Regions from separate parts of the Homo sapiens genome. Here regions 2 and 3 are each reported to be linked to region 1. Evidence: microRNA targets listed by miRTarBase, many of them from high-throughput screens and not tested one by one. Region 1 holds a microRNA gene; each other region holds the end of a gene's coding sequence.
The links. The annotated mature microRNA hsa-miR-30b-3p reads CUGGGAGGUGGAUGUUUACUUC and lies in region 1 at 2,202-2,223, opposite strand. An mRNA with a match to its seed (bases 2 to 7 or 8) in the 3' UTR can be bound and repressed. Matches are read on the target gene's strand: a 7mer-m8 pairs with bases 2 to 8, a 7mer-A1 pairs with bases 2 to 7 and ends in A, and an 8mer does both.

Region 2: miRTarBase lists DHX40 as a target of hsa-miR-30b-3p. The part of its 3' UTR that is shown has no 7-base or 8-base seed match.
Region 3: miRTarBase lists HECTD3 as a target of hsa-miR-30b-3p. The part of its 3' UTR that is shown has no 7-base or 8-base seed match.

Annotation. Positions count from the first base shown.
Region 1 is chr8:134,798,331-134,801,513 of GRCh38, forward strand. MIR30B (microRNA 30b) reads right to left here and starts at 2,277; the gene lies at 2,190-2,277. It also overlaps a transcript of ZFAT not described here.
Region 2 is chr17:59,606,428-59,609,610 of GRCh38, forward strand. It overlaps DHX40 (DEAH-box helicase 40), which reads left to right. Exons shown (of 18, transcript NM_024612.5): 18 at 606-1,918. The coding sequence ends at 745. Among named protein-coding and RNA genes, the nearest start is that of CLTC, 12 kb to the right of the region's middle.
Region 3 is chr1:45,000,938-45,004,120 of GRCh38, forward strand. HECTD3 (HECT domain E3 ubiquitin protein ligase 3) reads right to left here. Exons shown (of 21, transcript NM_024602.6): 18 at 3,123-3,183; 19 at 2,918-2,999; 20 at 2,732-2,803; 21 at 1,611-2,639. The coding sequence ends at 2,555. Among named protein-coding and RNA genes, the nearest start is that of HECTD3, 8.8 kb to the right of the region's middle.

The sequences.
Region 1 (3,183 bases):
AATATGGTAAACAAGAGGGGAAAACTGAGACATTTTAACATATATCCAGATTTCATAACATTTAAAACTGATAAGCACACATTAATCAGAAAATATGTGATTAGAATATATTTACTAAAATTCTGTAACAATTCTAATAAATATACAGTGTTTTAAAAAATGAAGGCATGTACCTTCCTGTAAGGGTGGGAGACAGCTAACTGTAAGTAGAATGTTTCACTGCATTAATTCAAACAAGAAAAATACTCAAATTTTCACTTAAGTACAACATAGTTTCATGTATAGCTTCTTCTAAGAGACAAAGTGAGGCAAATCTGATAGCCCACATGATCAAAGACCTTATTACATAATCAGGAATGTATGTAATATAAAGATATAAACATATGGCCATTAAACAAGAAGAAAAAAGGCAATGAATTAAACACTAGAATTAGGAATTTAACCTACAGGCTATTTTGTAGCCTAAACCACATGCATATGCTGAGTATTTTTCACATCTAGCATATGAAAGAAAAATTCTATATTTTATGCACTGAGGTTCAAAAACAAATTGATGGGCAATTCCCAAATATGCTTAATTTGGGAGAAAAACACTTCATAAAACTACCTTTACATTATATGCTTTGTAATGCATTGCAATATGTTTCTCAAAGTACTATAAATTATAAAATAATGTAAAAATTTGGCAAGTTTCAAATTAACATGTGGAGCTCACTAAAACATAGTATGCTATGCACCTAAGTACAGAATAAAACAGCTCTCTCGTAATGACAAAGAAAATTAACAAATTATTCATTAAACAAATAAAATATATAATTAGAAAAACAGCACTCACCTTCAACAAGTCTCCATGCTTTCATTTCACATTTTTATTTAATCATGTATTTCTCATAACATTTAGACATCTTCCACAGGAGCACCAAGCATGAATTCTAATTCTGGATTTAGGCACAGGCAAGAGCATACAGACACTTGCCAAGCTGCTAGGATGTGTGTACTTCTTACATAATTTTCGTTTTATACTTGTTTGTTTTGCTTTTCACCTATACAGAATGTGGATGTATCACCAAAAAAAGAAAAGGCAGGCTGATTTCATGGAACTGAAAAACAAAGCTATAAAAAATTAATTTTCAGTATTTTAAGTAAAGACATGAAAATGGAAATAACGTTTAGACCAATCAGTACATATATAGAACTAATTATCAGGTATTAGCTTATTTTTAAATTGTTACCTCATTTAGTCTCAACAATCCTATCAGGTAGGTGCTATTATAATTTCAATTTAGTCGACTGAGGAAACTGAGGCACAGAGAGATTAATAACTTCCCCCAAAGTAACATAGCGAAGTAACTCGCAGAATCAAGATATGAGCTCCAGAAGCTGGGATTCAAAATTCTTTGCCACTATATTACAACAATATCAAAGATTCAAAGCATTTCCATTAAACCAAAAAGTTGGCATCATCTTTATTGCAAAAATAAAAACAAGTTATGTCTGCTTTAAGCATTATGGCAACTATTTACTGAACACCTACAACACAGCATTAATAATAACTAGCATTTATTGAGTACTTAATATGACAGGTACTGTACTAATGAACAACTTTATATTCATCATGTAAGTCAATCCATGCAATCACATACTTATTTTACAGATGAGAAAACCACTGAGGTATGGAAACAGTGCCTTTCCCTCCTCCAAATCCCGTAGCAAATTCACTTGTGGAGTCCAGATGGCAACAAATGTCTGATGTCAAAGCCCATGCTTGTTAAAGCACACTGCAATACTACAAACCCGACCCCAACTACCAAACAAGGGCATTCTTTTGTCCCAATACCCAGAGCCTTATGTCATGTTAGTGCTATAGCAAAATTGAAAAGATACAATAAAAATTTAAATTGAGTAACAAATTTAAAGGAATTTTAATAAATTTAGAGTAATTTTTCCTCTATAAGCATACTGTTTTTCTGTTTTAACTACTCCTACTGCAACCATGCTTTCTTCTGCTTTTCTCTGCAAACATATTCAAGTAGATCCCTGCCAGCTAGACAATTAACACACTTTTTCTCTGGGAGAACAAAATGGTCTCACATTTCCAACAAACCTTTAATTACATTAATTACATTAAAAATTCAAGCCTCTGTATACTATTCTTGCCAAATCTTTTATCAATGTTAATTGGTTGACATTCCAAGTCAGCTGAAGTAAACATCCACCTCCCAGCCAATCCATGTATTACAGCTGAGTGTAGGATGTTTACATGAACTGAAACTTGGTTTAAAGCAGGACTTAAACTCTTTACTAAGTTTGTACGGTTCTTTACGTAAGACTCTGTTGAAAAAAAGAACAGGCACAGCATTCACATAAATGAGGCAAGACTCAATCGGAAAGATATCCTGAGAGAAAGTGTAGAATCCAAGGAAAAGGCAGAAGTGAGTTGGGTGTTTGTTTTTTTGGAAGTGGGGGCGTGTCCAGGGCAGTGGGGGGCACTACAGGCACGCTACTATGCCCGGCTAATTTTTCTTATTAATAAAATTTTTTTTAGAGACAAGGTCTCACTATATTGCCCAGGCTAGTCACAAACAAGTGATAACGTTTTTCACCAAAGGAATTTACAACAATAAATGCCGACATCCTGTAGTGTTCCATATCTAAATGTAGCTGATTATCCAGCCTTCCTATATCCTTCCCTTCAAAACAATCAAACTTGCATTTATAAGAACTTACTTGATGACCAGTATGATGCATCAACCAATCTTCATTAAGAAGATTCCTCCTTTAGGTAAAAGACAGTTAATGAAACACTGTGAGGAGCTTAGTCATCTCTCCTCCCCCTCAACCCTCTCCTCATCTTCTCCCCCACATTCAGAATTCAGATAATTTCATCTCAGGCACATCTTTCCCACACTCTGATCTCTTTCCACCTTCTACTGTTCCCAGTGTCATTAAGGTGTCTCAAAGAAATGTCTCCCCCTCTTTTTGCATTCTTTCTGATTAAAAATATATTCCCACAAATATCTCCACTAACTATTATCAGTGGTCCTACCAACACACTTGCATCAAAGAAGAGGAAATCTTCAAATTTGGAAGTAAAACTACATATAATAACCACTGCCAGCAAACTTTAAAAATCTTTGGCATTTCACAGGTAACCCAGGACTTTCAGGAACCTCGCCAGTCTCT
Region 2 (3,183 bases), not on the chromosome of region 1:
TCATAGAAAAATCTTTAGAAATGTTAGCCACTAGGGAGGCCAGGCATGGTGGCTCACGCCTGTAATCCCAGCACTTTGGGAGACCAAGGCGGGCGGATCACGAGGTCAGGAGATCGAGACCATCCTGGCTAACACGGTGAAACCCCGTCTCTACTAAATATACAAAAAACTAGCTGGGTGTGGTGGCGGGCGCCTGTAGTCCCAGCTACTCGGGAGGCTGAGGCAGGAGAATGGCGTGAACCCAGGAGGCAGAGCTTGCAGTGAGCCGAGATTGCGCCACTGCACTCCAGCCTGGGCGACAGAGTGAGACTCCGTCTCAAAAAAAAAAAAAAAAAGAAAAGAAATCTTAGCCACTAGGTGTTCTATTACAGTGTAATAACACTGCCACATGCTTGAATTAGGGTCAGTTTTTCTGACTCATTGGCCTTGGTGCTCTTAATTTTGTAACCATAGACTACATTGCTTTTGAAAGGGCAAAATTTAATTTTTCTCTTTATTGTTTTTACTTTGTTAACACTGAAAAATCAGGGCTTCTCTTTCTCTTAACATTTCTAGTACTGAATCTCAAAGCTAAGTTTTATTGGATTAATTTGTAATGTTTTCAGATGGAATATCGAAAGACGTCTTAAAGAAAATGCAAAGAAGAAATGATGACAAATCCATATCTGATGCACGGGCTCGTTTCCTTGAGAGAAAGCAGCAGAGGACCCAGGACCACAGTGACACACGAAAGGAAACAGGCTAAGGTGGTGAACCCTCCAATTCAGGAAGTGGGAAAAGGAGCCAGGAAATGTGCTTCTACTTTGCCAGTTATTTCAGACAGCACTACCAAGAGGAGGTGGTCAGCACTTGTTATTGGCCTATGAACTAAAAGCAAATCAAAGCTCATAAATCAAAGCTCATCAGTTCCCATAAATGCAGTTGTCAAAGAAAAGATTTGGTTGCCATAGTCATAAGCAATGATACATGAAACCAATGAAAGACAGTACATGTAATAATATTTTCCTCAGTACAATTTTGCTGGCCTTAACTGGTATCAAACGCTGTCATTGAGATGTTTTCAAAGAACATTGAGTTGTATTTAATCAGCGTGTACTCCATTTGCATTGAAGCATTAAAAATTATTTTTCTTAAAATCTCTTTAAGGCCTTCTTGTTGCTGTTAGAATAGTGCTATATATCAGGTATGTGACCATTTATTTCAGAAGGCTGAACATAAGAGGTTTCTACTCAGCAATACTTAGATGTCTAACTGTTTAATTGCTACAGAGCTTTATAGATATTTAGAGAAAAGACTTAATCAATTAGTAAATAAAATTGCCTATGGCAGGATTCTTTCTTGAATTAATATTAATCCTTAAATTGATTTTTCTGGGATTATACAAATTCCTTTTTATATAAAAGTATATTGTTTAAAACAGTAGCTATAGCCATTAACCAAAGGACAGATGATATATATATATATGATATATATATATATATAAGTTCTTTTTTAGCTGTACCTACGTACTTATATCAGCACCATGTATGTAGGTGTGATAGTACTTTCAAACAGCGCCTCCACCTGGCCTACTCTGTTATTTCCACCTGTTTGGGTAGGGCCATTTAACTTCCATTATGCCAAACTTGGGATGGGATTTTCGAAGCAGACAACACTATTTCATCGTGTTTCAAATTGGAACCTTGAGGCTAGTTAGTATCACACTCAGGCCACACTCAGCACTTGCCCACTCTTGTTTACTGCCTTGTATTCTAGTTATTTGTGTATTTGTCTCCCTCACTAGATTATACGCTCCTTGTGGGCAGGGACTGTGTCTTTTTTCATCTTTGTATCTTTCATGCACCTAGCATAGTGCTTTGCACATAGTAGTCACTCAGTGTTTGTTAAATAAAGCTATTAGTGTCATTAAAATTCAAAAGACAGTATAATGTGTGTTTTTAGATATTTTGTGTAAAAATTAAGAATCTAAATTTTTTATCGGTAACTCTTCTAGTTATTTCCTTTGGAATCTAGTTTTATGTTCAATAATAGAAACTTGAAATCTTTATCAAAAATCACAAGGACCCAAATTCATGTATTTGTCCCTAAAGTAAGGTGAGTGATGATGGTTTCTCTAAACCTTTCCAGTGTTTTAATTTGTTAATTTTTTTTTTTTTTTTTTTGAGACGGAGTCTCACTTTGTCGCCCAGGCTGGAGTACGGTGGCATGATCTTGGCTCACTGCAAGCTCCGCCTCCCAGGTTCACGCCATTCTCCTGCCTCAGCCTCCCGAGTAGCTGGGACTACAGGCATCCACCACTATGCCTGGCTAATTTTTTGTATTTTTTAGTAGAGACGGGGTTTCACCGTGTTAGCCAGGATGGTCTTGATCTCCTGACCTCATGATGCGCCCGCCTCTGCCTCCCAGAGTGCTGGGATTACAGGCGTGAGTCACCGCGCCTGGCCTAATTTGTTCATTTTTATCTTTAGTGCTCTAGACACTGTTATTAGCACATATTAATCATTTAGTTCTGTCAGTTTCTCTTCTCAGGTGTATTGTATAAGGGCATATCCTCAGATGTGGTGGGAGTGTGTGGATTCTTGGAATGAGAGCTCTTCTAGTTTAGTAAATATTAAGCATATATTCTGAATCTACACCTCACACTCAAATTATATCTGTTGTTTCAGTAATGTCCTTTATGGCATTTTTCTGTAGTTCAAGATTTAGTCTAGGATCACGTATTGTATTTAGTCTCTTAATCTGGAAAAAGTCCTCAGTCCTTGTCTTTCACAACATTAACATTTTAAAATAATATAAGCTAGTTATTTTATAGAATGTTCTCAATTTGGGTTTCTCCAATGTTTCTTCATGGTTATGCATTTTTAACTGGAATACTGCATAAGTAATAGTGTCATGGTATCACGTCTGGAGGTACATGGCATTTTCCCCTTGCTGGTGTTATTAATGTTAATTACTTATTAGGGTGCTTTTTAAATTATATCAACCTGGTTATCCTTATAATTCATAAATAATTTGAGGGAGAGATACTTTGACATTATATAAAATATCTCGTTCCTCATAAAATATGACATTTTGTATTTACCATCAATTGATGATTCTTGCCTGAATCCATTTTATTCTTATGGCTGCAAAATGGTGATTTTTTTTTCTAATTCTTTTCTATATTTGTTGGTATTATATTGT
Region 3 (3,183 bases), not on the chromosome of region 1:
TGCATATTAGTTTATTGAATGAATGAAGGGTTAAATGAAATGCAGGCTACAAAATATACAGTGTGAGTAAAAAAGGGACTAAAGAGTTCATGTGACCATACCAGGCACAGAAACTGGCTACTTCCTGTAGGAGCACGTGGCCTGGGCCCTTTCCTGAGGGGAGAGAAGGGAGAGGTGCACCCTGACTTGGGAAGAGCAGAGCTGGGTGGAAGTGGTGGCCTTGGGGGTTTCTGTGCCTTCTGCTTCCTGGAAGGGAAGGGGGTTCACCACCCAAGGTGCAGGGGTACAGGGGAGGCGGTGGCAGCCGAGAGACTGAGCTGTCAAGTTCCGTGTTTTGGGATAGGTCTCAGGGTGCACACAGTGCAGGCAGAGATCAACCTCTTGCACAGTAAGTTTCCCAACTAGGGCAGTGTCAGGGAGTGCCCTAGAGGACAAGAAGGGGAAGAGTTGCCAGGGCGAGACTCCGCCAAGCCACTTATCTGGACAATCAGCCACCACAAGGTCTCACATTGTACCTGGACTCTGAGACGACTGGGACCCTGGGGCTGTGCTTGAGAGCGTGACTGGCCACTGTGGGGGTGTAGGGGGACTGTTCGTACACAGGGTTCTCCCTGATACTCCTTTTTTTTTTTTTGGATAGAGGGTCTCACTCTGTTGCCCAGGCTGAAGTGCAGTGGCATGATCTTGGCTCACTACAACCTCCACCTCCTAGGCTCAAGCGATCCTCCCACCTCAGTCTCCCAACTGGCACCACAGACACGCACCCAAGCCCTGCTCATTTTCGTATTTTTAATAGAGAGAGGGTTTCACCACGTTGGCCAGGCTGGTCTCCAACTCCTGGGCTCAAGTGGTCCGCCCACCTCAGCCTCCCAAAGTGCTGGAATTCCAGGTATGAGTCGCCGGCCCCAGGTACTTGTTCTTGAAGACTACTCAGGCCTGTAATCCTAGCACTCTGGGAGGCTGAGGTGGGAGGAATGCCTGAGGCCAGGAGTTCGAGAACAACCTGTTCAACATAGGGAGACCCCTATCTCTGCAAAAAATTACCCAGAAGCGGTGGCATACTTGTGGTCCCAGCTACTCAGGAGGCTGAGGTGGGAAGATCACTGGAGCCCAGGAGGCCCAGGCTGGAGTAAGCCGTGACTGCACCACTACACGCCAGCCTAAGCAACAGAGACCCAAACAAACAAACAAACAAACAAACACCCAAAAAGGACTGCAACGGGTTGGGGGCAGGGTAATAAAGACACTACTTCCTCCACTTCTGTCAACAACCCTGACCTGGCTGGTTTGTCAGCCCTCCCGTCTCTGTCTTCTATGATGTCAAATTCTTCTGCCCACTTGGCTCCAGAAGTGGACTCCCATCCTCCAAATCACCATATCCATGCCAGAAAATGCCAGGCCAGCCTGTTTGCTTGTTTTCCCTTTTCTGCGCAGTGGGGCCCTTACGTCTCTGCTCAGCCCCAGATATGTAACTGTGCAAAGTCTGTCACTGAGAAACCTCTACTTGCATTTCACATCCATCTTCTTGGCTCCGAGTAGGACACTAAAGTCAATTTCTCCTTGTGACCCTGTGCCTAAGCCCAGGGCCCAATAAACACATTCTGAAGGAATGAATTCATCCATTTATTCAACTTTCCGGTATGCAAGAACTTCTTTTCATGGAGTGTCACGGAGGCCCTGAGGGAGGAACGGTAAACTGGGGCAGGGGTGTGCATAGCTCTAGGAACAGGTTTAAGGTCTAGGCTTTAGAGTTGGGGAAAGGGGAGCTATTACAGATTTCAAAAAGGCCATAACTGGCCTTAACCTGTGCAAAATCTTGGGGGTGAAAGGGCAGACAGGGAGTCAGGCTGGAGGTGATGGAGAAGTGAGGAATATGGGGAGGTCGTGGTAGTAGAGTTCACATTGAGTGGATGTGGGTTCTGAGTCAGGGAAGGTGGTGGCACTTTGTGTGTTGAGACTGGGTTGGTAGAAGAACAGAGCTCACCACATCTCTGGTATGGAGGGAGAGGGGAAAAGAGCAGAATGTGAGGGCAGGTGCTCAGCTACTGCTTCCTTCTTGGAGCAGGTGACCAAGGAGTTTGGCTATCACTCCCTGCCCATCCCAGGCTCCCTGCTTGGGGAGGGGCCTCCACTAACCTCCAGTGTTTTATGTTTTTAGTTGTGAGTCATGGCTGAAGAAAGCCAGAGAGAAAATAGGAGAAAAAAGGCGGAGCTGAAAATGGAGGCAAAGTCCATGGGTTGGGGACCTAGATGGCCCCCTTCAAGTAGCTCAGGCCTGGCAGCTTGTGCTGGGCTTGTGGAAGATTCCCTCTTAAGAGGTGAAATACCTCGGGAAGCAAGCCCCAGCACGGGTAGGGCTTGTGGGTCTGCGGGGCTGGGCCACTAGTGTTACCTGACCATGCCAGCTGCCCCTACCCCAACTGCACACAGGAGCAGGGCACATGGGGTTTTGCTGAGCACGTCAGCCAAACCAGGGCAGGGAAGGTGTCTTCGCCCTGGGCAAGGCCAAGAGGGACACGTGCAGTCTTGCTGGTCCCACAGCCGGCGGCACGCCTCACTCCTCCCAAGGGCTCATGTCAGTGTCGATGGCCACGCAGTTGTAGGCCGCATAGCGGAGCTTCTCCTCGCATACCTTGGCACTGTGGGAATGGGGACTTGGTCAGGTCCCTACATCGCTACCAGGGGTGATGGGGTCCCCTGGGCCCCAAATCGAGCCTAGGAAAAAACCCACCTGGCATAGTGTGGCAGGAAGAGGGTGCTGGAGCAAGTGGAAGACTCGGGCAGCGCGTCTGTGGTCTCGTAGCTGGGGGCATTGAGGGACCATAGGTCAGGAAGATGTGTTGGGGCACATGTACGTGTGTGGGGAGGGAGGACAGAAGGCGGCCATGGCACCTTCAGGCCTCCCTCCAGCACTCACCCCAGCTTGTCTGGGTAGATGTAGATCCGTGCTGGCAGGCGACTGCGGCCCGTGACAAAGCGCAGGAAGCGGCTCCGGTCCTCTGGAGGGAGAAGGAAATCAGTGCCTGCATGGATGGTGAGGGAGGGTCTACAACTTCTACCCTGCCTCTGCAACTCAGCAGCAGAGTCCAAACCCAGGTGTCACCCTGCCCTCCTCCACTGACCGTTGGTGAAGTTGTTCAGTGCCTCCCAGAAATACTGCACCCGCGAGTCAGATGGCTCGAA